Homo sapiens: one gene and its partners. The protein of the gene in region 1 purifies or fractionates together with the protein of each later gene. This does not show direct contact. Each region holds a gene or a part of one and is shown in the gene's direction. Other genes may lie near its edges. The genes, in order: ATG4B, DCP1A, EIF4E, EIF2S3, GLUD1, NCAPD2 and PRRC2C.

Region 1 (3,500 bases):
TGAAGCCTGTGGGGTAAGGGGAGACCTTACTGCCTACAGTGTCCCCATCCACCAACCCATCCCCCCCGCAACTCATCCTTCTGTCCACCCCCAGTCAAAGGCCAGCCAGGACATCCTTAGCATGCTCTTCTTGTCCTTAACGTTGATGGGCTTAGACCTTTCTAACGACAGTAGACAGAATGTCACTGAATGTAGGGAGGAAATACAGATTGGAAAACGTGTCAGTCTGGCAGTGAGGACAAATGACTCCAATGAAAGAAAAGTAAATACCAGAGCAAGCACAGTCAGAAACAGAGTGGGGAGGAGAATCACAATAGCTGGAACTCAACTCTCTGAGAGGCAGTGCAGCCAAATAGAGGCAGCTGAGAGCAGAGTATGTGGATTAGAACTTTTCGGGAGAGTTGGCCACTGAAGGAGTAGGAGAAAATTCCCCTGAGTTGGTGAGAGTTGAGTCTTTAGAGCTAAAGACCCCCAAATTTTTTTATCAGAAGTACTTAAACATACATGTTCCTGATAATATTTCCAAATTGCAGAAGTAAAGGGAAACTTCTCTAAACATCCAAATAATAGTATCACTACTAAGCTGCTTTGAAGAAAGGCAGTCTCAACTGGCCTGGGCATCTCATCTTTGTGCCATACCAAATGCTACTGGAAAATGTTTAGAATTCTGAGAAAAGACCTGGCTTCATGAGGTGAGAGTAGGTATGTGTACTGTGTAGTTGTCATTGATAGAGAAATATAAATTTTAAATGTGTTCAAAATATAAAGAGAACACGAGAAAATTTCAGGTGGTGGCAGGAATAGGCAAAAGCCCGTTGCACCCTGTTGACAGCAGGGTGTTTGTGACGTGGTAGGTCACACACTCAGTGCTGGGCTCTGGAGGCACAGAAGCAACCGGCCCAGCTACGCATCAGCCCTTGAGCCGATTCATGTGTTCGATCATATTCCTGAGACAGTAGGGTCTGTGCAGGTAACAAAGCACCAGTCAGCAGGAAACTCACCACCGGGAAGCCTTTCTATCAAAACATAACTTCAAAATCAGTAAAGTGGGCCGGGCATGGTGGCTCACGCCTATAATCCCAACTTCAAAATCAATAAAGCGGGCCGGGCGCGGTGGCTCACGCCTATAATCCCAACTTCAAAACCAATAAAGTGGGCCGGGCGCGGTGGCTCACGCCTATAATCCCAACTTCAAAATCAATAAAGCGGGCCGGGCATGGTGGCTCACGCCTATAATCCCAACTTCAAAACCAATAAAGCGGGCCGGGCGCGGTGGCTCACGCCTATAATCCCAGCACTTCGGGAGGCCAAGGTGGGTAGATCACATGAGGTCAGGAGTTAAAGACCAGCCTGGTCAACATCGTAAAACCCCATGTCTACTAAAAAAAAAGTTAGCTGGGCATGGTGGCACGCCCTCGTAATCCCAGCTGCTCGGGAAGCTGAGGCACGAGAATTGCTTGAACCTGGGAGGCAGAGGCTACAGTGAGCTGAGATCATGCCACTGCACTCCAGCCTGTGTGACACAGTAAGACTGTGTCTCAAAAAACCAAAACAACAAAAAATAATAAAAATATATAGAAAACAGAATAATTAACAGATTAGCTATGGAAAGATCAAAGCTACAGGGGACCCAGATAACACAACAGGCAGAGTTTAGTAGATACGTGTCAAACCCTAGATTGTGACAGCAGAGTGTGCCTGGGAATTTCTATGAAACTAATGCGGAATAAAATGAAAAAAGGACAAAACCCTGCTGCCTGGAAATGTGAAACCTCAAAAAAGTCAAGTGTAGAGACCGTAACTATGTATCTGAACCTGATGTGTACAGAACTCAGAAGAAAACCTGTGTATCTTCAGTACTAGTATATGGGTTCTTTACAAAGTGAAAATTAATGAAATAAGCATACAACTCAAGAATTCGGAAAAAGCAAAATTAACTGAAGAAACCAAAGAATAATATTAAAGACAAATACAGAAATTAATGATTTAAAGGAAGAAATGTATTAGGCCAGGTGTAGTGGCTCATGTTTGTAATCCCAGCACTTTGTGAGGCTGAGGCAGGAGGATTGCTTAAAGCCAGGAATTCAAGACCAGCCTGGGCAACATAGCCAGACGTCTATTTTTTTTTTTTTTTTGGAACAGTTCTGCTCTGTCGCCAGGCTGGAGTGCAGTGGTGGCACGATCTTGGCTCACTGCAATTTCCGCTGCCCAGGTTCAAGTGATTCCCCTGCCTCAGCCTCCTGAGTAGCTGAGACTACAGGTGCATGCCACCACGCCTGGCTAATTTTTTGTATTTTAGTGGAGATGGGGTTTCACCATATTTCACCATGTTGGCCAGGATGGTCTTGATCTCCTGACCTCATGATCTGCCCACCTTGGCCTCCCAGAGTGCTGGGATTACAGGCGTGAGCCACCGTGCCTGGACCTCATTCTATAAAATATTTTAAAAATAAATTTTAAAATTAAATTTATTAGAACTAACACATACTAGAACTGGCTCTTTGAAGCAATAACATATATGTTTTAAAAAAATCAAAGTTAAAATCCCTCCCTTGGCTAAGCACTGTGGCTCCCGCCTGTAATCCTAGCACTTTGGGAGGTGGAGGCAGGCAGATTGCTTGAGTCCAGGAGTTTGAGACCAGCCGCCTAGGTAACATGGTAAAACCTCATCTCTACAAAAAAACAAAACAAAAAAACTAGCCGGACATGGGGGCATGTACCTGTAGTCCCACCTACTCGGGAGTCTGAGGTGGGAGGATCCCATGAGCCTGGGAGGTTGAGGCTGCAGTGAGACATGATTGCACCACTTCACTCCAGCCTGGGTGACACAGTAAGACCCTGTCTCAAAAACCAAACAGAAACCCAAACAACTCCCTTAAGGCTGGGCGTGGTAGCTCCTACCCATAATCGCACCTCTCAGGGAGGCTGAGTTGGAGGATTGCTTGAGACCAACCTGGACAACTCCCTCTCTATAAGAAATAGAAAAATGAGGCCAGGCACATGGCTCATGTCTGTAATCTCAGCACTTCGGGAGGCTGAGGTGAGCAGATCACTTGAGGTCAGGAGTTCGAGACCAGCCCGGCCAATGTGGCAAAACCCCGTCTCTACTAAAAATACAAAAATTAGCTGGGCGTGGTGACACACACCTGTAATCCCAGCTACTGGGGAGGCTGAGGCAGGAGAATTGCTTGAGCCCAGAAGGCGGAGGTTGCAGTGAACCGAGATTATGCCACTGCACTCCAGCCTGGACAACAGAGAATCGGCTTCAAAAAAGAAAAGTCAGGGGGCACAGTGGCCCACACCTGTTGTTCCAGCTACTCGGGAGGCTGAGGCGGGAGGATTGCTTAAGTGCAGGTGTTTGAGGCTGCAGTGAGCTGTGGTTGCACCACTGCACTGCAGCCTGGGTGACAGAGTGAGACCCCGTCTCTAAAAGAAATTTAAAAAGTTCTGTCTCAGAATCCTTGTTTTCCAGCTGTCTGTTTTGAGAAATTTGAGTCCTA
Region 2 (3,500 bases), on another chromosome or scaffold:
GGTGGAACTGTCAGTTTTCATATTTACTTTAGCAATTAGTTTGACTGATTTTGAAATACTTCAAGGGAAAAAGGGAGAAACCTTAGTGGAGTTTGTAATGCATCTCTGCCAACTCTAGGAAGGAATTCTGTATTTTTATCCTTCTGAAGGGTAAATATTGGCACTGTTAATGAGACGGTGAAATGGTAAGTCATTTATTTCTGAAATGAGGTAACTGAAGTTCTGTGTTATATATTGCAAGAATAATGTAATCGGCTGGGCGCGGTGGCTCAGGCCTGTAATCCCAGCACTTGGGGAGGCCTAGGGCAGATCACGAGGTCAGGAGATTGAGACCATCCTGGCTAACACGGTGAAACCCCATCTCTACTAAAAATACAAAACATTAGCCGGGTGTGGTGGTGGGCGCTGTAGTCCCAGCTACTCCGGAGGCTGAGGCAGGAGGATGGTGTGAACCCAGGAGGTGGAGTTTGCAGTGAGCCGAGATCACACCACTGCACTCCAGCCTGGGCGACAGTGCGAGACTCCATCTCAAAAAAAAAAAAAAAAAAGAAGAATGTCATCATGTGACACTCTTAGTGTATCCTTGGAAGATGAACACCAAAAGAAATCTTGGGTCAGATTTTGTTTCAAGAGGCCTTTCTAAAACCTTGTTCTTCTCCTCTAGTGTGGTAGAAGAGGAGACACGGCGATCCCAGCAAGCTGCTCGGGACAAACAGAGTCCCAGCCAGGCCAATGGCTGCAGCGACCACAGGCCCATCGACATCCTGGAGATGCTGAGCAGAGCCAAGGATGAGTATGAGAGGGTGAGGCTCTCTGGGTACTTGGGTGCTGACCAGGGAAGACCAAAACGGGAGGAGGAGGTCTGCAGGAGACTATTTTACTAGGGAAGCTGGCCTCCAGGGACGGCAGAAATATAAGTTCAAAAAGAGAGCGTGTTAGCACACTCCTGTAATCAGTCCCAGCTACTTGGCAGGCTGAGGAAGGAAGATCACTTGACTCCAGGAGTTGGAGGCTGCAGTGGGCTATGATTGTGCCACTCCACTCTAGTCTGGGCAACAGTGAGACCCTGTGTCTCTCTTTTTTTTTTTTTAAAACAGATGTGTCTTACAATTTTAAACCTAAAACATAAGGAAAGAACTTGCTTACCCCAGATTACTTGTTTTTGGCAGGAAAATTTACAATGCTTTTTTCTATTCCTATAAGATTACTATGGGAGAAGATGGTCTTGGAGTGCAGAAGTTAGCTCGCAGCAGCTAGTTCTGGTAAAGCTTCGTGCCTCTTCTTCACCACTGCAGTTTCTGTTAGGATCCTCAGTGGTCCTAGGAATTTGTTTAGGCTTTGAAAAGTATTCTGATAGTTTGTACCACATAATACTAAAAAATACACTCATGGTCTGTAATTGGTGGTAGATGCACAACCTTCATTAAGCTTCATTTGGAATTTTACCCAAATGAGAGGCTTTTCTGAAATTCACTGTTTTCTTTCTCTTCTGTTGTGCATTTTAGTTTATAAATTAGCTGATAAAATTTTCTCCCAAAAGTTGAATAAAATGGCAATTGTGGTACTTTCGTTAATTTATTCAATACCTGCTTATGAACCATCTACTATGTGCAAGCAGTGGGCATTTCATGGTTATGACTCTCCTGGAATTTTACTTGGCACCTCAAAGCCCCCACACTTCACTGGAGTGAGACAAGCTCTCTACTGCTGAACTTTGTTTTAGCAGAATTATACTGTCACCTTACTCTTCATTAAATATTGAATTAAGTGCTTTCCTTTCATGCCTATTTCACCTCACCAGAACTTCAAGGAACAAAATGTGAAAAAGCACTGTCCAAAAGACCCTGTTTCCCATACAGTTCTGCTATAATACCAGCTACTAAGTTATTAATCAGTGATCCTGAAAAAAGCTTCAAATTGGCAAAACGAGTTAAGGTACTGTTGTTAGCATGACTCTTCCTCCTCCCATCCTCTTGGGACTTTACAGAGCTCAAAACTGAGAGGTCCTGCAATAAGTAAAACAATAACACCAATTCCCAGATTGACTTGACTGCAGGACCATTTTTTGCATACTGCCCTTTAACAACTCAAGAATTTGGAGTTCAGGAAAAAGTTTGAAAAAAGTGTTCTGAAAGATAGTTTCTTCTGACTAAAAATAGGCATGTTCACCATAAACTACATAGACCTTCTACATTCTGATAACAAAGGAAGTCCCACCTCCAGGGTGGAGAAATGTACATGAGAGCCCATGAGAAGTTTCAAGTTTGTACCAAATTCTTCAATGTCTCACAGAGAATTAGGAGGAATGAATGGATCTATGGAAGTTAAATTTGGAGGAGCAGTCACCTCTCTAATAAATTAATCGATTCTTAGGAAACCAAATGAGAACTAACTTCAAGAATGGCTTTCTGATTTAGAAGTTACCTTACATTCCCCTCTTCTACCCTTGATGACAAGCGGATTTTCTACGTACATACTTTGTTCTGTTTGTAGAGCCCTTTCAGTGTTCTCATAGGTACCTAGTAAGTCCAGGGCTCTGTCACTCATCCTGAGTAATAACTGTATCAAGGTACCACACGGGACAGAAACTGTAGGTGCTGCGCACTAAAGCAGATACTCCAGTAAGTGGCCTGGCTTACTCAGGCTGAGAGGTTAAGTAGCCACAACGAGAAAGTAGGAAATAAGACATTAGCTTTGAACACAAAACTTTAAAGGAACTCTAGGGTCAGGTGGGCAATCTAAACATCTGACATTATTTTGAATTATATCAATATTACAAAAGGAATATAGATAGCATGATAGTTTCTGTTTTAAATAAACTTCTTTCACACTATGGAATAAAATATCGTCTATGGGTAGATTAAAATGAAACCCTTTGGGATTTGGTTAAATCTTTGATATTTACTTTATCATGTGTTCTTTCTGATTTTGAAAACTGTCTGCAATAGGTGGAGCTTCTTTGAATTAGAGTTTTGTTCTCTTATCTGCATTTGTCTATCATCTCATCAGATGGAGCTGGTATAAGCAGTGACCCATGAATTCATGGGTCTTGGTGTTTGGATGGGCTCCCTTCAGCTGCCACATTTTTTCAGACGGCCCCTTTGTTTATCTTTAGGTGAAGACTCAGAAGATTGGCAATCAAGGGCAGGGGTGCAAGCTAGGCCTCAGTGTTGGGATTTAATCCTGATTCTGAGTCTCCGCTATCTGCTGAGTATGATATAATGAACGAAATTTCAGACTTTTGAATGAGCACTTGTAATAATGAGACTCTTTTCTTTTTTCAGACAGGGTCTCTCTGTTGCCCAGGCTGGAGTGCAGGGGCACAATCTTGGCCCACTGCAGCCTCTACCTCCCAGGCTCAAGACATTCTCCCATCTTAGCCTCCCAATTAGCCACGACTATAGGCCATGCATCACCATGCTTGGATAATTTTGTTTATTTTTTGTAGAGATAGAGTCTCACTATGTTGCCCTGGCTGATCTTGACAAGCTCCTGGGCTC
Region 3 (3,500 bases), on another chromosome or scaffold:
AGTGCAGTGGCGCGATCATAGCTCACTGCAGCCTCAAACTCCTGGGCTCAAGAGATGCTTCCATCTCAGCCTCTGGTGTAGCAAGCACTACAGGAGCAGGCCACCACGCCCGGATAATTTTTAAACTTTTTGTAGAGATGGAATCTCGCGATGGTTACCCAGGCTGGTCTCAAACTCCTGGACTCAAGTGGTCCTCCCACCTTGGCCTCTCAATATGTTGGGTTACAGGCGTGAGCCACCGAGCCTCGCCTGGATTTTTTTTTGAAGCAACTGATTAGAATTGGATTGTACTTGAGATACCCCTGCTGAAGGCTGCAAAAATCATGTTTTTTCTTACTTCAGCTAGTTTGTGAGCTTCCATAATGGTTTTCTGCTGTGCATAATCATAAACACTTAAAAAGAGCCATGGGCTTTTCCTGCTTATCCCATCATGCATAGGTATCTGGATGATTTTTGTCTATGGACATTACATAAAATATCATTTTCAGTTTGATATTATTGTGTGGTTTTCTCTTTGTATGAGTTGAGTTACATGAAGATGTGGCCCACAAATATTAAATTTGTTGAGAAGCTTGAAAGGGAAAATTAAGGGAAACATTTTACCTCTTAACGGATAATTTGGCAAAAATTTGAACGTTAGGGCAAACGGTACTCTGATGTTATTCTATCGGCATTTGAATTGTGGCTGGGTCAAAATTAGGTTTAATATTAGTCTGTGAAAATGGCAAGGCCATCTTACCTCCAGTAGGTCGTGTTTCTTTGTAGCTTTATCTTCATTCTACATCGTTCATTATTAGAATTAAAAAAATTTTTTTTTGACTTGTAGTTCCTTTTGAGGTAAGAGATTAATTTTGATTTCTTTAGCTTAACTGAAAGTGTATAATTTTACTTGTTTTTACATTGTAGCTCTTGAATTTTTTGAAACCACGCTAATTTCATAAGTGAATCAACTTGGACAATCAGCTAATTTAATGCTTCCTTTTTTATACTTTGGAAACATGCTCTGTACTACACAGCTTATTAATAAGAGTAAATAAGGTTTATATACATATTGACAAATATTTGTTGTACTATATAATTCATATTAATGAACAATTGAATGCCAACCAGACTATGCAAATTAGTGGACTTTTTGCTTAATGAAAGAACCCACTATATCAGAGTTCCTCGATAATCCACGTAAATTTGGCTCTGGGGTTCATATTCCAGATTTCTTCAATTAAAAGAAAAAAATATACTTGCTGAGTGCGGTGGCTCACGCCTGTAATCTCAGCACTTTGGGAGGCCGAGGCGGGTGGGGATCACTTGAGGTCAGGTGTTCGAGACCAGCCTGGCCAAAATGGTGAAACCCTGTCTCTACTAAAAATACAAAAATTAGCCAGGCCTGGTGGCAGGCGCCTGTAATCCCAGCTACTGGGGAGGCCAAGGCAGGAGAATCGCTTGAACCTGGAGGTGGAGGTTGCAGTGAACCGAGATGGTACCACTGTACTTCAGCCTGGGCGACAGAGCAAGACTCCATCAAAAAGAATAAAAAAAAAAACAGAAACAAATTTCACACTTCATTTTATAATCTGAGTTAATGAGCATGATTATTAGACTTAGAGAAATTCAATGTAGACACACAGTTTATACACAGAAGTTGCAGAGGGATAATATGCAAAATGAATTATGTAAGCTTACTCTAGTTTGGACAGAAAACTGTAGGCAAAAAACATTTAAGTAAAATATTGTTTAATTTACATAAAGTTAAGAATATGGGCCGGGTGCGGTGGCTCATGCCTGTAATCCCAGCACTTTGGGAGGCCGAGGTGGGTAGATCACCAGGTCAGTAGTTTGAGACCAGCCTGATCAACATGGTGAAACCCCACCTCTACTAAAAATACAAAACTTAGCTGGGCGTGGTGATGCGTGCTTGTAATCCCAAGGTACTCAGGAGGCTGAGGCAGGAGAAGCTCTTGAACCTGGGAGGCGGAGGTTGTAGTGAGCTGAGATTGTGCCACTGCACTCCAACCTGGGTGACAGAGCGAGACTCCGTCTCAAAAAAAAAAAAAATAAACAAAAGAAGTTTCCTTAATCTATTAGTACCGGTGAGTTGCACCATCTTAGTCATAGAGACTTTTTTGAGAAGTGGAAATGAGCATGGGTTATAGTCTCATCTTAATATCTGAGTGATCTTGAAGACTGAAATTTCTAAGTCAGCTGAAAGTCGGAATAAGATATATTACGGTGATTTCAATTTTTAAATGCAGTATTCAAAGGTGACAGTTTGTCAACTGTAAGGGACTAAAGTTGACATTCCATGAATGTTTTATACTCATGTATATCCATGCATTTACATACTATTTTCCCTCTTTTCTTGGAAATTCACATTGCTGCTTTTTAATTATCAATCCTTAGCCATTAGCAAGAAATGCAAAGCCTGTGATTCACAATCCTAAGATGTTCTTCCCACTCCTATCCCTACCATAAAAATCACTAGTGTTCCTTCAAAAGTCCCTAATCATGTCTCCAGAAAAAGAAAGGGGCTGGGCTTGGTGGCCCACACATGTAATCCGAGGCTTTGGGAGACAAAGGCAGGAGGATCACTTGAGCCCGGAGTTTGAGACCAGCCTGGCCAACATGGCGAGACCCTGTCTCTCCAAAAAATTAAAAAATTAGCTGAATATGGTGGTGCACACCTGTGTCCTAGCCTCAGGAGGCTGAAATGGGAGGATCCCCTGAGCCTGGGAGGTCAGAGCTGCAGTGAGCTGTGATCACACCACTGCATTCCAGCCTGGGTGACAGAAAGAGACCCTATCTCACCAAAAAAAAAAAGAAAAAGAAAATGATTTTGCGTGTGTGTGTGTGTGTCTAAAATACTAATAGTCATTTCTGGGCACTTCTGGAACCTGAGAATGTGGTCAGAAATATAAGGGGTTTTTTTTTTTTTGTTTCCCCAGTTGGAACTTTTGATACATTATTCCATAGAAACAGTAGGAAAATGGGCCGGGCGTGGTGGCTCACGCCTGTAATCCCGACACTTTGGGAGGCTGAGGTGGGCGGATCACCTGAGGTCGGGAGTTCGAGACCAGCCTGACCAGCATGGAGAAACCCTGTCTCTACTTAACAAAATTACAAAATTAGCTGGGTATGGTGGCACATGCCTGTAACCCCAGCTTCTTGGGAGGCTGAGGCAGAAGAATCGTTTGAACCTGGGAGGTGGAGGTTGCGGTGAGCCTATGTCTGCCATCGCACTCCAGCCTGGGCAACAAGACTGAAACTCCTTCTCAAAAAAAAAAAAAAAGAAAAAAGAAAAAACAGGAAAATGAAGTTTAGTCACACTATATTCAGTAAATTTTTGTGGAATCATTACAAATCTAACCAGCATTGGATTTATAGGGATATGGAATTAAGGATATGGATTTATAGTTGTAAGCAACTAACTAAAAAAACCTTATAAACATACCTTGTTTGTAACAGCTATTTTTAATGTAGAAAGATCGTTATTTGTAATTGCTACA
Region 4 (3,500 bases), on another chromosome or scaffold:
ACCTCCACCTCCTGGGTTCAAGCAATTCTCTTGCCTCGGTTTCCCAAGTATATGGGACTACAGGCACGCACCAGCACGCCCAGCTAATTTTTGTATATTTTAGTAGAGATGGGGTTTCACTATATGTTAGCCAGGCTGGACTTGACCTCCTGACCTCAAGTGATCCGCCCGCCTTGGCCTCCCAAAGTGCTGAGATTACAGGCATGAGCCACTGCGTCCGGCCAAAATTGAGAACTATATGGCAGTTAGTTTAAGAAAGAAACTTAATAAACAGGGAAAAGTATTAGCCATTTATGACAAAGACATGATATTCCTAAAATCCATATTTTTGTTTTGTTGTTTATTTTGAGACAGAGTCTTGCTCTGTTGCCCAGGCTGGAGTGCAGTGGTGCGATCTCGACTCACAGCAGCCTCGATCTCCCAGCTCAAGCCATCCTCCCACCTTAACCTCCTGAGTTGCTGGGACTACAGGTGTGGGTCACCACGCCTGGCTAATTTTGTATTTTTTGTAGAGACGGAGTTTTGCCGCATTACCCAGGCTGATCTCCAACTCCTGGGCTTGAGCAATCTGCCCACCCCAGCCTCCGAAAATGCTGGGATTAACAGGTGTGATCCACTGCGCCCAGCTTCATGATTTTTAAAAAATGTCCCAGATTAGGTTGGCAGAGATGGGAAATTGCTGACACCTAGTGTTGGCAAAGATTGAGGAAAATAAGCTATCATGCTTTTTTTTCCCCCCACTCAGGTGATCTGCCTTCCTCGGCCTCCCAATGTGCTGGGATTACAGGCGTGTGCCACTGCGCCTGGCCCATATTAACTCTTATATAGCCATAGTCCTTCATGCTCCCCTCTTTGGGAAATTTTGTACCTCATTTGTACTAGGTAACTGCTTCAGAATTTTAAGAGGTACTCTGGTACGGTTACTACCCTATTTTTTAAAGGTAGATCTTGTGTAAATTCAGTGGGTGCCAAATAAACTATACTATATATAGTTCAAATTCCTTTACAATGAAATTTCTATAGAATTTTTTTTATGATTGACATATTTCCCAATAGTATTTGGTAAATTCTTACTTACATTTGGAAAGCATTTTCTTGATTTTGGGGTTTATTTTTCCCTAATTTATTTTTCTAGGTTCAAAAGCTGTCTAAGAATGAAGTGCTCATGGTGAACATAGGATCCCTGTCAACAGGAGGGAGAGTTAGTGCTGTCAAGGCCGATTTGGGTAAAATTGTTTTGACCAATCCAGTGTGCACAGAGGTAGGAGAAAAAATTGCCCTTAGCCGAAGAGTTGAAAAACACTGGCGGTAAGTTTGTTAGTCTTTGCCACTGTCTAATTAAAAAAAGACACAGTCTTGTACAGAAAAAAAAGCACACAATCTTCCTTGAGGACAACAGTTACTGTGGCTTTCAGTCTCAACTATTTATTTGGATGACTTTGAAAACTATACTTCGGCCGGGTGCGGTGGCTCACGCCTGTAATCCCAGCACTTTGGGAGGCCTAGGCGGGTGGATCATGAGGTCAGGAGATCAAGACCATCCTGGCTAACATGGTGAAACCCCGTCTCTACTAAAAAATACAAAAAATTAGCCGGGCGTGGTGGCGGGCGCCTGTAGTCCCAGCTACTCGGGAGGCTGAGGCAGGAGAATGGCGTGAACCTGGGAGTCGGAGCTTGCAGTGAGCCGAGATGGCGCCACTGCACTCCAGCCTGGGCGACAGAGCGAGACTCCGTCTCAGAAAAAACTACAACCTTGACTATAGTCCCATATTTTAGTCCAAATACTGTGATTGGCTTCTCTTCCTGTTAGACACAACCTATGCAAAACCAAATGAATTTGGGTTCGGTATTTCTATCGTCATTGGCTTTGGAAATCATTTCACACTTAATAGAAAAATTGTAAGAGTTTTACAGAAAACTCCTCTATAGCTTTTTCCTAGATTGACAAACACACATACAGATTTATTTACATATATAAGTTTTTTTCTGAACCATTTGAGTGTAGGCTATATATGTTATGCTTCTTGATCTCTTAATACTTCAGTGTATATTTCCCATCAAAAAAGGATATTCTTATGTAACCACTTAGAAATTTAACATTGGCAAAATACTGAAATCTACAGTGCATGTTTCAGTTTTATTACTTGTCCCAATAATGTACTTTATGTTCCTCCTGTTTAGAATCTTGAATTGCATTTAATTTCATGTCTCTTTGATCTTTAATCTGGAGCTTTTTCAGCCTTTGTCTTAATTGACATTAACAGTTCTGAAGAATACAAACTAGTTACTTTATAGAATATTCCTCAATTTGGGTTTTTCTTATCATTCGGAAGCCTAACATTAGATTCAGTTATATATTCTTAACTTAAATACACCGTGAAGTCTCCTTTTCAGGAATCACAGCTAGAGGCACATGATATCTGACTGCTCCTCTTTGTTAAGGTTAGTTTTGACTATGTAGTCAAGATGTTGTCCAGCTTCTCTGCTGTGTAGTTACTCTCTACCCTTGCAACTAATAAGCAATCTGTAGGGAGATCTTTCTAGCCAGTACAAATAGCCTGCTGATCATTGAATCCCACACCCCTGGATGTAGCATCCACTGATGATTCTTGCCTGAATCGAACTTGACTATAATGATTACAAAATCATAGCACCTCTACGGGTTGCAGTATCCTCCCTCAACTCTACCACCCCACATTTATCATTTGGCATTCTTTCTTTGCCATTATTTATTTCCCTATCTAGTTATAATATGGACTCATGGAGTCCTATTTTATTCAACATGTTATGATCCATCACTGTCTTCCTTTATTTTGATGTGCATTGTTCGACGTTTGGCCAGTGGAGGTCCTTCAGGCTGGCTCTTGTGTCCTTTTGACATGTACTCATCATTTTTTTTTCTTCTTCTTTTTTTTTTTTTTTTTTTTTGAGATGGAGTCTTGCTTTGTCGCCGGGGTAGAATGCAGTGGCATGATCTCAGCTCACTGCAACCTCTGCCTCCCAGGTTCAAGCAATTCTCCTGCCTCAGCCTCCCGAGTAGCTGGGACTACAGGCACACGCCACCACACCCGGCTAATTTTTGTATTTTCAGTAGAGACGGGGTTTCACCACGTTGGCCAGCCTGGTCTTTAACCCCCGACCTCAGGTGATCCGCCCTCCTTGGCCTCCCAAAGTGCTGGGATTACAGGCATGAGCCACCACGCCTGACCTCTTTCTTCTTTTTTTTGGAACATTTCCTTATTTTCTGGCACAAAATCTTCCAGACTCATCTTGTACCTTCTCTGTTCCAGTTTTAGAACTGGCCATTTCTCTTATAAATGAAAAGCTGAGTGTTCAGGTGTGCTCATGGCTCTTAGGGTGCTGTTGCTTCTAGGTCTTTTGAGAGCATAGAGCCAGGAAGCATACACACATTTTTGGCTCCTGACTTTTTGCTCTTTCCCAGGTTATTGAGTTTGCCCCTTGCTTTCCATTCCTCGTCACCTCATCACAGTCCATACCAC
Region 5 (3,500 bases), on another chromosome or scaffold:
TTTTTACTGGAGATGGGGCTTTGCCATGTTGGTCAGGCTGGGCTTGAACTCCTGACATCAGGTGATCCACCCATCTCGGACTCCCAAACTGCTGGTATTACAGATAGGAGCCACTGTGCCCGGCCTCCTACTATTTGTTATAGGAGCTTTTGCCAAACATACAACATTTCTGAAGATATTAATCTTTGTTTGCTTGATGTTTTTGTATCTTACTATTATCTGTGTTTATATTTTCTTTGTGCACAATCTGAATATTCTTTTTATGATATGTAAGTATTTGTCATGTACCCTTTAATTTTCAAGCAGTTTAAACCTATATTTTTTTTAATCTAGAAGGCTTCTAATTTGTTTGAATAGAATATGCATAACTACTTAATAGAATGCTTGCCCTATCAGTATAGTTAATAGAATGTTAATACTTACTGCCGAGCGTGGTGGCTCACACCTGTAATCCCAGCACTTTGAGAGGCCGAGGCAGGTGGATCACGAGGTCAGATCGAGACCATTCTGGCTAACGGGGTTTAGTAGGAATCCCATCTCTACTAAAAACACAAAAAATTTGCCAGGCGTGGTCGCGAGTGCCTGTAGTCCCAGCTACTCAGGAGGCTGAGACAGGAGAATGGTGTGAACCTGGGAAGCAGAGCTTCCAGTGAGCCAAGATCACGCCACTACACCCCAGCCTGGGCAACAGAGCGAGACTCCGTCTCAAAAAAAAAAAAAAAAAAAAAAAAAAGAATGTTAATTGTTACTTAATAATAGAATACTTGTCCTATCAATATCAGTATAGTTAAACAAAATAAGGTCTACTTAAATAGAAAATAAAGTGTATTTTTCTCTACTTTCCTTTCTTAGCATTTCCCCCACAAGTTCCCATGAAATTAAACTATAAAGGCTGGGCATGGTGGCTGGTGCTTGTAATCCCAGCATTTTTGGAGGCTGAGGTGGGAGGATCACTTGAGCCCAGAAGTTCGAGACCACCCTGGGCAATATTACAAGACCCCATCTCTACAAAAAATGAAAACATTATCCAAGCGTGATGGTGCATGCCTGTGGTCCCAACTACTAAGATGGGAGGATCCCTTAAGCCTGGGGGGTTGAGGCTGCAGTGAGCTATGATTGTGCCACTGCACTCTGGCCTGCCACACTCTGGCCTGAGCAACAAAACGAGACCACATCTCAAGAAGAAAGAGAAATGAAATAAAGCTATTCGGATTCATTTTTAGGAAAAAAAAGTCATGAAATAAATGTCATGAAATAACCTAATATAGAAATACAGTAAGTATAGGTAACTCTAAAACTTGACTAGATTTGGCCTGTCTTTGATAATAAAAGGCATTTGGGCCTTTGATGTGCCGCATACCCAGCACTACTGTGAACTTGTGCATCCTTACATGGAGTCTGTTAACGTAAGTTAATATGAGTTAACTATCTCGCTCACACTTTTATAGGAGTGCCTACTGATTCTGAGATATGGTGAATTGAAGTCATCTTCAGCCTGTTAATAGCCTTCATAATTTTTAAAAGGTCTTTCCTCTTCCCCTAAATCTCAAACACATTTTATAGTCTTGAATGGTTTCAGACTTTATTCAGTCATATTTGTCACCCATATCTGCAATATCTCCAGCTTAATTTTATCAGACTTGACAAGTACCTAATAATTCCAAAGGTCAAAAAGTGATTCATTGGAATACTGAAAGAAAACACAGCTTAAACTCTAGTAATTTGATTTATTTGCTTAATGTGCAAAAGCCTCATTGACCCAGGATGCAGTTAAATTGACGTCTTGGCCCAGAAAGCTTTGAAGCCTAGGAGGTAGGCAAAGGGAGTTTTTTCTCTCACTCCTCGGCAAACCTTCAAATTTGATGTTATTTATCTGTTATTTCCTGACTGCCCATTCCACAGAGAGTGTCAGATTGAGGCTCAGACCTGAGCCTGAACCCTGATCCTGTCACATGTGTGTTTAGCATCAGCTTGTAAATTTCTGCAAAACAAAAGAAAAAAAGAGGCTGGGATTTTTATAGGAATTTCATTGAATCTGTACACTAATTTGTGGAGTATTGCCATCTTCCCCACCCTCCCCAAAAAGGTTTTGTCCTTTCACCCAGGCTGGAGTACCAGACAGCAGTCACTGCAACCTTGACCTCCTGGGCTCAAGCAATCCTCTCACCTCACCCTCCCAAGTAGCTAGAACCACAGGGGTGTGCAACTGTGCCTAGCTAATTTTTTAATTTTTTGTGGAGACACGGTCTCATCACGTATCCCAGACTGGTCTCAAACTCCTGAGCTCAAGCAGTCTTCCCACCTCAGCTTCCCAAAATTCTGGGATTATAGGCATGAGCCACTGCACCTGACCAGTATTGCCATCTTAACCATATTAAGCCTTCCAATGCTGAATATGAGATGTCTTTCCATTTATTTAGGTCTCTTGATTTCTTTCAATGATGTTTTGTAGTTCTCATTGTAGAAGTCTTACATAGAAGTCTTACAACTAAATATTTTACTCCTTTTAATGCTATTGTAAGTGACATTGGTCTATAGTTTTCTTATGATGTCTTTGTCTAGTCTTTGTATCAGGACAATTCTAGCCTCATGGAATGAGTTGAGGAGTGTTCCTTCCTCTTCTGCTTTTGGAAAAGCTTTTGAAAGGTCAATGTTCATTCTCTTGTGTGAGTGTAAATATCACCTAAGTTCTGCAGGACCCTGATGTCTCCACCCTTCTCATCCCCTTATATCTCTGTGTACCAAAATTACCCTTTCATCTCCTACTCTATAGTCACATGCTGTTAGAAAAGTTGCTTTTTTAAAAAAGATTAACTTCTGCCTCATACCTGTTCTCTATATAAGAATTTATCTGTTAGGCCAAGCATGGTGGCTCATGCCTGTAATCCCAGCACTTTGGGAGGCTGAGGCGGGTGGATCACCTGAGGTCAGGAGTTCGAGACCAGCCTGGCCAACATGGTAAAACCCCGTCTCTACTAAAAATAAAAAAAAATTAGCCAGGCAGGTACCTGTAATCCCAGCTACTCAGGAGGCTGAGGCAGGAGAATTGCTTGAACCTGGAAGGCGGAGGTTGCAGTGAGCCGAGATCATGCCATTGTACTCCAGCCTGGGCAGCAAGAGTGTAACTCCTTCTCAAAACATAAAAATTAAAAAAAAACAAAAAGAATATATCTGTTATTCAGGAACTACTTGTTTTTTGTTTTTGTTTTTGTTTTGAGACAGAGTCTTGCTGTGTCACCCAGGCTGGAGTGTAGTGGCACGATCTCAGCTCACTGCAAGCTCCGCCTCCCGGGTTCACGCCATTCTCCTGCCTCAGCCTCCCAAGAAGCTGGGACTACAGGCGCCCGCCACCACGCCCGGCTAATTTTTTGTATTTTTAGTAGAGACAGGGTTTCACTGTGTTAGCCAGGATGGTCTCGATCTCCTGACCTTGTGATCCACTCACCTCGGCCTCCCAAAGTGCTAGGATTACAGGCATGAGCACCGCACCCGGCCTCAGG
Region 6 (3,500 bases), on another chromosome or scaffold:
ACCTTAGCCCGGGGAAGTTGAGGCTGCAGTGAGCGGTGATCATTGCCACTGCACAGCCTAGGCAACAGAGTGAGACCCCATCTCAAAAGAAAAGAAGAAGGAAAATAAATAAGTAAATATCCAGGAATGTTGACAGCTGTTGGATTCCCCTGTATCCCCTTGAACGAAACCATCCTGTACTTCTCTAACTCCTTAGGCCCAGCAGCTTCCACACAAGAAAAGAATCCCCGGGAGTCTACAGGAAACATGGTCACAGGACAGACTGTCTGTAAAAATAAACCCAATATGTCGGATCCTGAGGAATCCAGGGGAAATGATGAACTAGTGAAGCAGGAGATGCTGGTACAGTATCTGCAGGATGCCTACAGCTTCTCCCGGAAGATTACAGAGGCCATTGGCATCATCAGCAAGATGATGTATGAAAACACAACTACAGGTATGCCAGAGTCCCTTTCTATAAGGACAGCCTTGGGGTTCTTTTGGATTTTTTAATTTTTTAAATTTTTATTAACAATAGAGATGGGGCCTTCCTTTGTTGCTCAGGCTGGTCTCCAACTCCTGGGCTCAGGCAATTCTTCTGCGTCAGCCTCCCAAAGTGCTGGTATTACAGGTGTGAGCCACTGCACCCGGCCATGGATCTTGGAGTTCTTTTCCATATTTTATTGATATATCTATCTGCTCCTTTAAAAGGCAGGGGTTCTCGGCTGGGCGCGATGGCTCATGCCTGTAATCCCTACAAAACTGGGAGGCCAAAGCAGGAAGACAGGTTGAGGCCAGGAGTTCGAGAGCAGCCTGGGCAACATAGCAAGACCCCATCTCTACAAAGAAACAAAAACTAACTGGGCGTGATGGCACGCACCTGTAGTTCCAGCTACTCGGAAGGCTGGGCAGGAGGATTGCTTGAGCCCGGGAGTTTGAGGCTACAGTGAGCTGTGGTCATGCCACTGCACTCTAGCCGGAGCAACAGAATAAGAACCTGTGTCTTAAGAAAAGAAAAAAAAAAGGCAGGGGTTCTTTTTTTCTGTTTGCTTCCTCTAGCCACTTACAGCTTATACATTTTAATGCATATAGTATTTCATGATAAGGCATCATAGGAGGAGTCGACATTCTCAGGGAAAATGCGGAAGGCCTCCATTTGCATCTTGCTACATTCAGAAAGGTTCTGTCGTTAGGTATTGGGGGAGTTTTGTGAAGTAGATAGGTGACATTTGTACATGTTCTCTCAGTGGTGCAGGAGGTGATTGAATTCTTTGTGATGGTCTTCCAATTTGGGGTACCCCAGGCCCTGTTTGGGGTGCGCCGTATGCTGCCTCTCATCTGGTCTAAGGAGCCTGGTGTCCGGGAAGCCGTGCTTAATGCCTACCGCCAACTCTACCTCAACCCCAAAGGGGACTCTGCCAGGTATATGGGGTGCTTTTGCCTTTGCTGACTTTTCCAAGGTCAGCTTCTCACAGGACTTCCCTTGTCTCCTAAAGGAAGAGGTGCATTTCTCCAGGGGAGTTCCAGATCCATAGGCAGTCCATCATAGTGGGGCTTAGGGTGGGGCTCGGTTTCCAGGGAGAGCAGTTTTGTAGCACTGTGGTGGGATAGCCCTAATCACTGTTTGCCAAGTTCAGCTTCCCAATCTTATAGTGACCGCTGATCTCTGCTGTTCCCACAGAGCCAAGGCCCAGGCTTTGATTCAGAATCTCTCTCTGCTGCTAGTGGATGCCTCGGTTGGGACCATTCAGTGTCTTGAGGAAATTGTAAGGCTTCCTGCTTTCTCTTTCTTTATTCATTCAACAAGTATTTTGGTTGTTTTTTTTTTTTTTTTTGAGACGGAGTCATGCCCCATTGCCCAGGCTGGAGTGCAATGGCACAATCTTGGCTCACTGCAACCTCCGCCTCCCAGGTTCAAGCAATTCTCCTGCCTCAGCCTCCCGAGTAACTGGAATTACATGCATGTGCCACCATGCCCGACTAGTTTTTTGTATCTTTAGTAGAGACGGGGTTTCACCATGTTGGCCGAGCTGGTCTCGAACCCTTGACCTCGTGATCCACCCGCCTCAACCTCCCAGAGTGCTGGGATTACAGGCGTGAGCCAAAGCGCCCGGCAACAAGTATTATTGAGTTATTACTATGTATTTAGCAATTTACTTAGCTCCAGAAAGAAGTATAAGACTATTTGCTTTCATGTTCCCAACTTTAAAGGAACCAACAGTCTAGTTGGTAGTGAAAAACCACAGAACATTTTTAGAACAATGCAGCAGGTAGATAATAAAGTGCCAGAATGAGTTGTACGGGTAATGGTTGTCATAGCAATAATAACAACCTCACTTATATGGTATTGAATATATGACAGGCACTCACACGTTACTCACAGTAACTTGTTTAATCCTCACGACAGCCCTGTGAGGTAGCATTATCTGCATTTTACAATGAGAAATCTGAGGCACAGAGAAGTTACTGAACTTGGCTGGTTACAGCTAGTTAGTGGCAAAGTTTGAGATTCAAACTCAGGCAATAAGAGCTCTAGAAAACATACTCTTAACTTCTGTGTTCTACTGAGGGATACAGAGTAGGAAAGAGAGCGGTTTGGGGTAGAATGGTCAAGGAAGCTTCCTGAAGGTGGTAGGACTTAAGCTGGGTCTTGAAAGATGAGTAGGATTTAGAGAATCAGAGCAAGGAGGGAGGGCATTTCAAACAGAACCCAAGAAAGAGCACAGTTCACATTGTAGAACAAAGAAGACTGTGTTCTGGTTCAAATTATCTGGAAAAGACCAGGCGCGATGGCTCACGTCTGTAATCCCAGCACTTTGGGAGGCCAAGGCAGCAGATTACCTGAGGTCTGAGGTCAGGAGTTCGAGACCAGCCTGGTCAACATGGCGAAACCCCACCTTTACTAAAAATACAAAAAAATTAGCCAGGTGTGGTGGTGGGCACCTGTAGTCCCAGCTACTTGGGAGGCTGAGGCAGGACAGTTGCTTGAACCCAGGAGGTGGAGGTAGCAGTGAGCCGAGATTGCGCCACTGCACTCCAGCCTGGGCGACAGAGGGAGACTCTGTCTCAAAAAAAAAAAAAAAAAAAAAAATCTGGAAAAGATAATAAAGTTGTGAATGTAGGTTGGAACTAAACTGTGGAAGTCCCTGAATGACTTCAGGAGTCTAGGACTTTAACTGTGTTAGCCAGGCACCCAGCATTTTAGTGAGACATTCTGCTTTGTAGCATTTGCATTGCGGGCACAGAGAGTGGAGGTGGCGCTGGGAAGCGTGCTCCTGCCAGCCACATTTTTCTCCTCACTGGGGAAAAGAAAAGAGCCTGGTGGTGGTGATTGGCCATGATGTCATAGGTCAGTTACCGGCAAAAGCCCTACAAGAGGCAGGGGAGAGCACCTGCAAACTGGGGTGCAACAGAAGGGACGTGGGGAAGCAGAGGCTGAGGAGACCAACCCATGGGAAGGAAGGCCCGTGGAGGCTGCTGCAGTGGGCAGTAACGAGGGGCTGGACTTGAGGATTGGAGAA
Region 7 (3,500 bases), on another chromosome or scaffold:
TTTTGAAAACAGAGGACATTGAAAACAAAGGAGGCTTTAGACAGGTGAATTTTAAGTTTATATTTGGAAATTTGATTTGTGGTGTACAGTTCTTTAAGTTTTAGTACGTATGGATTTTTGTAGCCCCCACAACTAGGATACAGAATGTAGAAAGATAAAACATCTCCCAACTGTAGAACTAGAGTCTTCTGGCATTTTGGAGACAGGGAAATTCTCTTGAAGAAATAACTATTAAAGAGGGATGGAAAAAGCCAAGAATGGCCTACCCATGCTGAATGATTTGTTTTCTGATTAGAAAGAAAAAATATTTTGATTATACTGTTATATTTATGACAAACTTGAACATAGAAAGAATGAAAGTAGGAGAAAGAAAAAGAAGGAGTTGGGTGTTGTGGCATGTGCCTGTGGTCTTAGCTACTTGGAAGGCTGAGGTGGAAGGATCTCTTGAGCCCAGGAGTTGTGGAGGGTAGCGCACTGTGTTCTACATATGGACTGAGTGTCTGCACTAAATTCAGCATCAATAGGGTGTCCTGGGAGTGGGGGACTAACAGGTTGCCTGAGGAGGGGTGAACTGGTCCAGGTTGGCAACAGAGCAGGTTAAAACTCCCATGCTGATCAGTAGTGGGATAGCCATTGCACTCCGGCCTGGACAACATTAAGGTGACCCTGTTTCTTATTAAAAGCAAGAGGGTAGGGGAATTTTTTTAATTTTATTTATTTATTTATTTATTTATTTATTTAGAGACAGAGTCTCTCTCTGTCGCCCAGGCTGGAGGCAGTGGTGCGATCTTGGCTCACTGCAACCTCTGCCTCCCAGGTTCAAGCAATTCTTCTGCCTCAGCAGCCCGAGTAGCTGGGATTACAGGTGTGTACCAGCACACCTGGCTAATCTTTGTATTTTTAGTAGAGATGGGGTTTCACCGTGTTGGCCAGGCTGGTCCTGAACTGACCTCAAATGATCCACCTGCCTCGCCCTCCCAAAGTGCTGGGATTACAAGGCGTGAGCCACTGCGCCTGGCCGGGGAATTTAAATAAAATAAAATAAAATAATAAAAGAAGAGAAGGAAGGAAATAGGTTTACATGTCTTAAGACTGGATATTTCAGTGGTAGAAGAAGAGGGCCAATGATACGGAGGGATGTTAACCAATTCTCTACACTTAATAAATTTAAAATTAATATTCTGACTTTTAAAGGCAACCCTTTGGTCCTCCAAAAGATTAACCATAATTCATAATGCTAGATGAGCATCTTGGAGCAAGTACTTCTCTTTCACTCTCATAACATTCAACATACTTTGGCCTTGCAAAAAACAAAGTTCAATTAACTGGATGGGGTGGCATGTACTTGTAGTCCTAGCTCCTCAGAAGGGTGAGGTAGGAGGATCACTTGAGCTCAAGTTCAGGGTTGCAAAGTGATGGCACTGCTGCACTCCAGCATGGGTGACAGAGTAAAACTGTTGAAAAGGAAAATAATAAATAAAGGTTGACTAAGAAATTATCTATGCTTTGGGCCTGAAGCGATGGCTCACCCTGTAATCCCAGCACTTTGGGAGGCCAAGGTGGGTGGATTACTTGAGGTCAGGAATTTGACACCAGCCTGGCCAACATGGTGAAACCCCATCTCTACTAAAAATACAAAAATTAGTCAGTTGTGGTGGCAGGCGCCTGTAACCCCAGCTACTCAGGAGGCTGAGGCTGGAGAATTGCTTGAGCCTGGGAGGCGGAGATCCTACCACTGCACTCTAGCCTGGGCAACAGAGCAAGACTCTGTCTCAAAAAAAAAGAGAAGAAATTATCTATGCTTGGGTTTTTCTTTTTAATATATTAGTTTTGCAAATATTGATTACCACTTAATAAGTTTTTGTTACAGGCTTTACACTATTCTAAGAGCTTTATACACACTTTGTTAATTAAATCTTATAATAGTATTGGAGTAGATATTATAGCCCACCCAGGTGAGGAAGTAAAAAATTTGAGATTAAGTAATTTGCCTGTGGTCACCTAGCTACTAAATATTAGAGCTAGAATTTAAACAAAAACAGTTTTAAGAGAAACAGTTGTGTAATTTTAACAATTTTAAAATACATAAGTTGTTAAAAAGAATGCCCTGGCAATCACCTCATTAAGTAATCGGTAGACAGAACAGCTGTACTTTTTAAGGACAGCAGTTTTTAGTACAGAAAATTTGATAGCTACATTTCTGTTCTGATTGTTAAGGCTTTATCCTACTCCGGAAACTTAATTCACATGTTTCAGTTTCCAGGAACAGCCTGAGCCCTTCCACTATCCTGATTAGAACTCCAGCAGATTTATTTATATTACACTTTGTTTTTTAAAAAATGACCATTTTGGATGTTTTTGCCGAACTGCTATTTGTAGTAAAAGAATTCAACATATGGTGGTATTCTTAGCTTTACTATTATAGTGGCAAATGTACTCTTAAAATATTTGACCTTAGAATTACTAGTTCATTTTAACTACTAGAAATGGAAGAGACCTTGTAAGTGGCCAATTCAACTTCTTACTCAAAGCAAGAATTATCTTTATAATATTTCTGACAGGCTTACCTTGCTTTTGCTTGGATCCATCTGATGATTAGTAGGTTACTACAGTCACCCCTTAACATTCACAAAGCATATGTCCTAAGATCTTACAAATTTCCGTATTTAGCATTCAAACCTCTTCACTTTCGCCTTCCGTGATCTACACTAGGATTTGGCCTCCTCTTCACTGCTCTTCCCCACCCTGCCCCCCTCCCTCAAGAAAGAAACAGATTTCTCTTTGTAAGAGTTATTGTATCCCCTAAAAGAAAACAAAGCTCTGGGCCTGGGGTCTCAGCATTAGGAGTGGTGAGGGATATCCAAGCTTATTTTCTAGATGCATACCTCATGGCATGTTAGTTACATTTTGTGCTTTAGCAAAATTACACGTCATTTCACAGCTCTTTGGGTTATTTGGCAAATTGTTAAAGTAATGCTATAAGTTTTAGTTTAATGTAACTTACTCACTTATGGATAAACTGAACAGTTTTTCCTTTGCATTCAGTCGTTTGTTAATGTTTGTCTTCATGAAGCCTGGAGTTGAGCATAATACTCTAAACATACTGTGACAAACATAAAATTCAGTGGAACTGTTATGACTCCAAATCTGTGCATTAGATTTCTATTAAAATTTTATAAAGCAGTATTGTCACACTACTAGCTGTCACAGCTAGAACCTTTTTCACATGACAGTCTGGGTCTGTATTCTGCATTTATGAAATCCAGTTTCTGAACTGTTAATATGACTGTATAACTAATTGTTTAATTCTGCCTAGCATTCTAAGACCTTTAAAAATCTTGGTCATGGAATACATTGGTACTCCTTCAGATGTATATATTATTTCATATGCCATGTTTACTTTCCAAGTCTTTATTCAAGTTATTGACATGGAAAAGGACAGGGTCCAACATATCCAGGCCAAATTATTTCATATTGACCACATTCTTTTAAATATAAAA

What was found.
Region 2: the proteins of ATG4B (region 1) and DCP1A purify together in Homo sapiens (affinity purification with mass spectrometry; one large-scale study listed by BioGRID and IntAct). This does not show direct contact.
Region 3: the proteins of ATG4B (region 1) and EIF4E purify together in Homo sapiens (affinity purification with mass spectrometry; one large-scale study listed by BioGRID and IntAct). This does not show direct contact.
Region 4: the proteins of ATG4B (region 1) and EIF2S3 purify together in Homo sapiens (affinity purification with mass spectrometry; one large-scale study listed by BioGRID and IntAct). This does not show direct contact.
Region 5: the proteins of ATG4B (region 1) and GLUD1 purify together in Homo sapiens (affinity purification with mass spectrometry; one large-scale study listed by BioGRID and IntAct). This does not show direct contact.
Region 6: the proteins of ATG4B (region 1) and NCAPD2 purify together in Homo sapiens (affinity purification with mass spectrometry; one large-scale study listed by BioGRID and IntAct). This does not show direct contact.
Region 7: the proteins of ATG4B (region 1) and PRRC2C purify together in Homo sapiens (affinity purification with mass spectrometry; one large-scale study listed by BioGRID and IntAct). This does not show direct contact.

Annotation. Positions count from the first base shown.
Region 1 is NC_000002.12:241,661,693-241,665,192, forward strand, and holds part of ATG4B (cysteine protease ATG4B), read left to right. Parts: intron 1-3,500. UniProt on the Homo sapiens protein: Cysteine protease that plays a key role in autophagy by mediating both proteolytic activation and delipidation of ATG8 family proteins. Required for canonical autophagy (macroautophagy), non-canonical autophagy as well as for mitophagy.
Region 2 is NC_000003.12:53,309,544-53,313,043, reverse strand, and holds part of DCP1A (mRNA-decapping enzyme 1A), read left to right. Parts: intron 1-664; coding exon 665-803; intron 804-3,500. UniProt on the Homo sapiens protein: Necessary for the degradation of mRNAs, both in normal mRNA turnover and in nonsense-mediated mRNA decay. Removes the 7-methyl guanine cap structure from mRNA molecules, yielding a 5'-phosphorylated mRNA fragment and 7m-GDP.
Region 3 is NC_000004.12:98,922,634-98,926,133, reverse strand, and holds part of EIF4E (eukaryotic translation initiation factor 4E), read left to right. Parts: intron 1-3,500. UniProt on the Homo sapiens protein: Acts in the cytoplasm to initiate and regulate protein synthesis and is required in the nucleus for export of a subset of mRNAs from the nucleus to the cytoplasm which promotes processes such as RNA capping, processing and splicing.
Region 4 is NC_000023.11:24,071,956-24,075,455, forward strand, and holds part of EIF2S3 (eukaryotic translation initiation factor 2 subunit 3), read left to right. Parts: intron 1-1,135; coding exon 1,136-1,308; intron 1,309-3,500. UniProt on the Homo sapiens protein: Member of the eIF2 complex that functions in the early steps of protein synthesis by forming a ternary complex with GTP and initiator tRNA.
Region 5 is NC_000010.11:87,070,844-87,074,343, reverse strand, and holds part of GLUD1 (glutamate dehydrogenase 1, mitochondrial isoform a precursor), read left to right. Parts: intron 1-3,500. UniProt on the Homo sapiens protein: Mitochondrial glutamate dehydrogenase that catalyzes the conversion of L-glutamate into alpha-ketoglutarate. Plays a key role in glutamine anaplerosis by producing alpha-ketoglutarate, an important intermediate in the tricarboxylic acid cycle.
Region 6 is NC_000012.12:6,521,602-6,525,101, forward strand, and holds part of NCAPD2 (condensin complex subunit 1), read left to right. Parts: intron 1-196; coding exon 197-436; intron 437-1,226; coding exon 1,227-1,401; intron 1,402-1,660; coding exon 1,661-1,745; intron 1,746-3,500. UniProt on the Homo sapiens protein: Regulatory subunit of the condensin complex, a complex required for conversion of interphase chromatin into mitotic-like condense chromosomes.
Region 7 is NC_000001.11:171,492,030-171,495,529, forward strand, and holds part of PRRC2C (protein PRRC2C), read left to right. Parts: intron 1-3,500. UniProt on the Homo sapiens protein: Required for efficient formation of stress granules.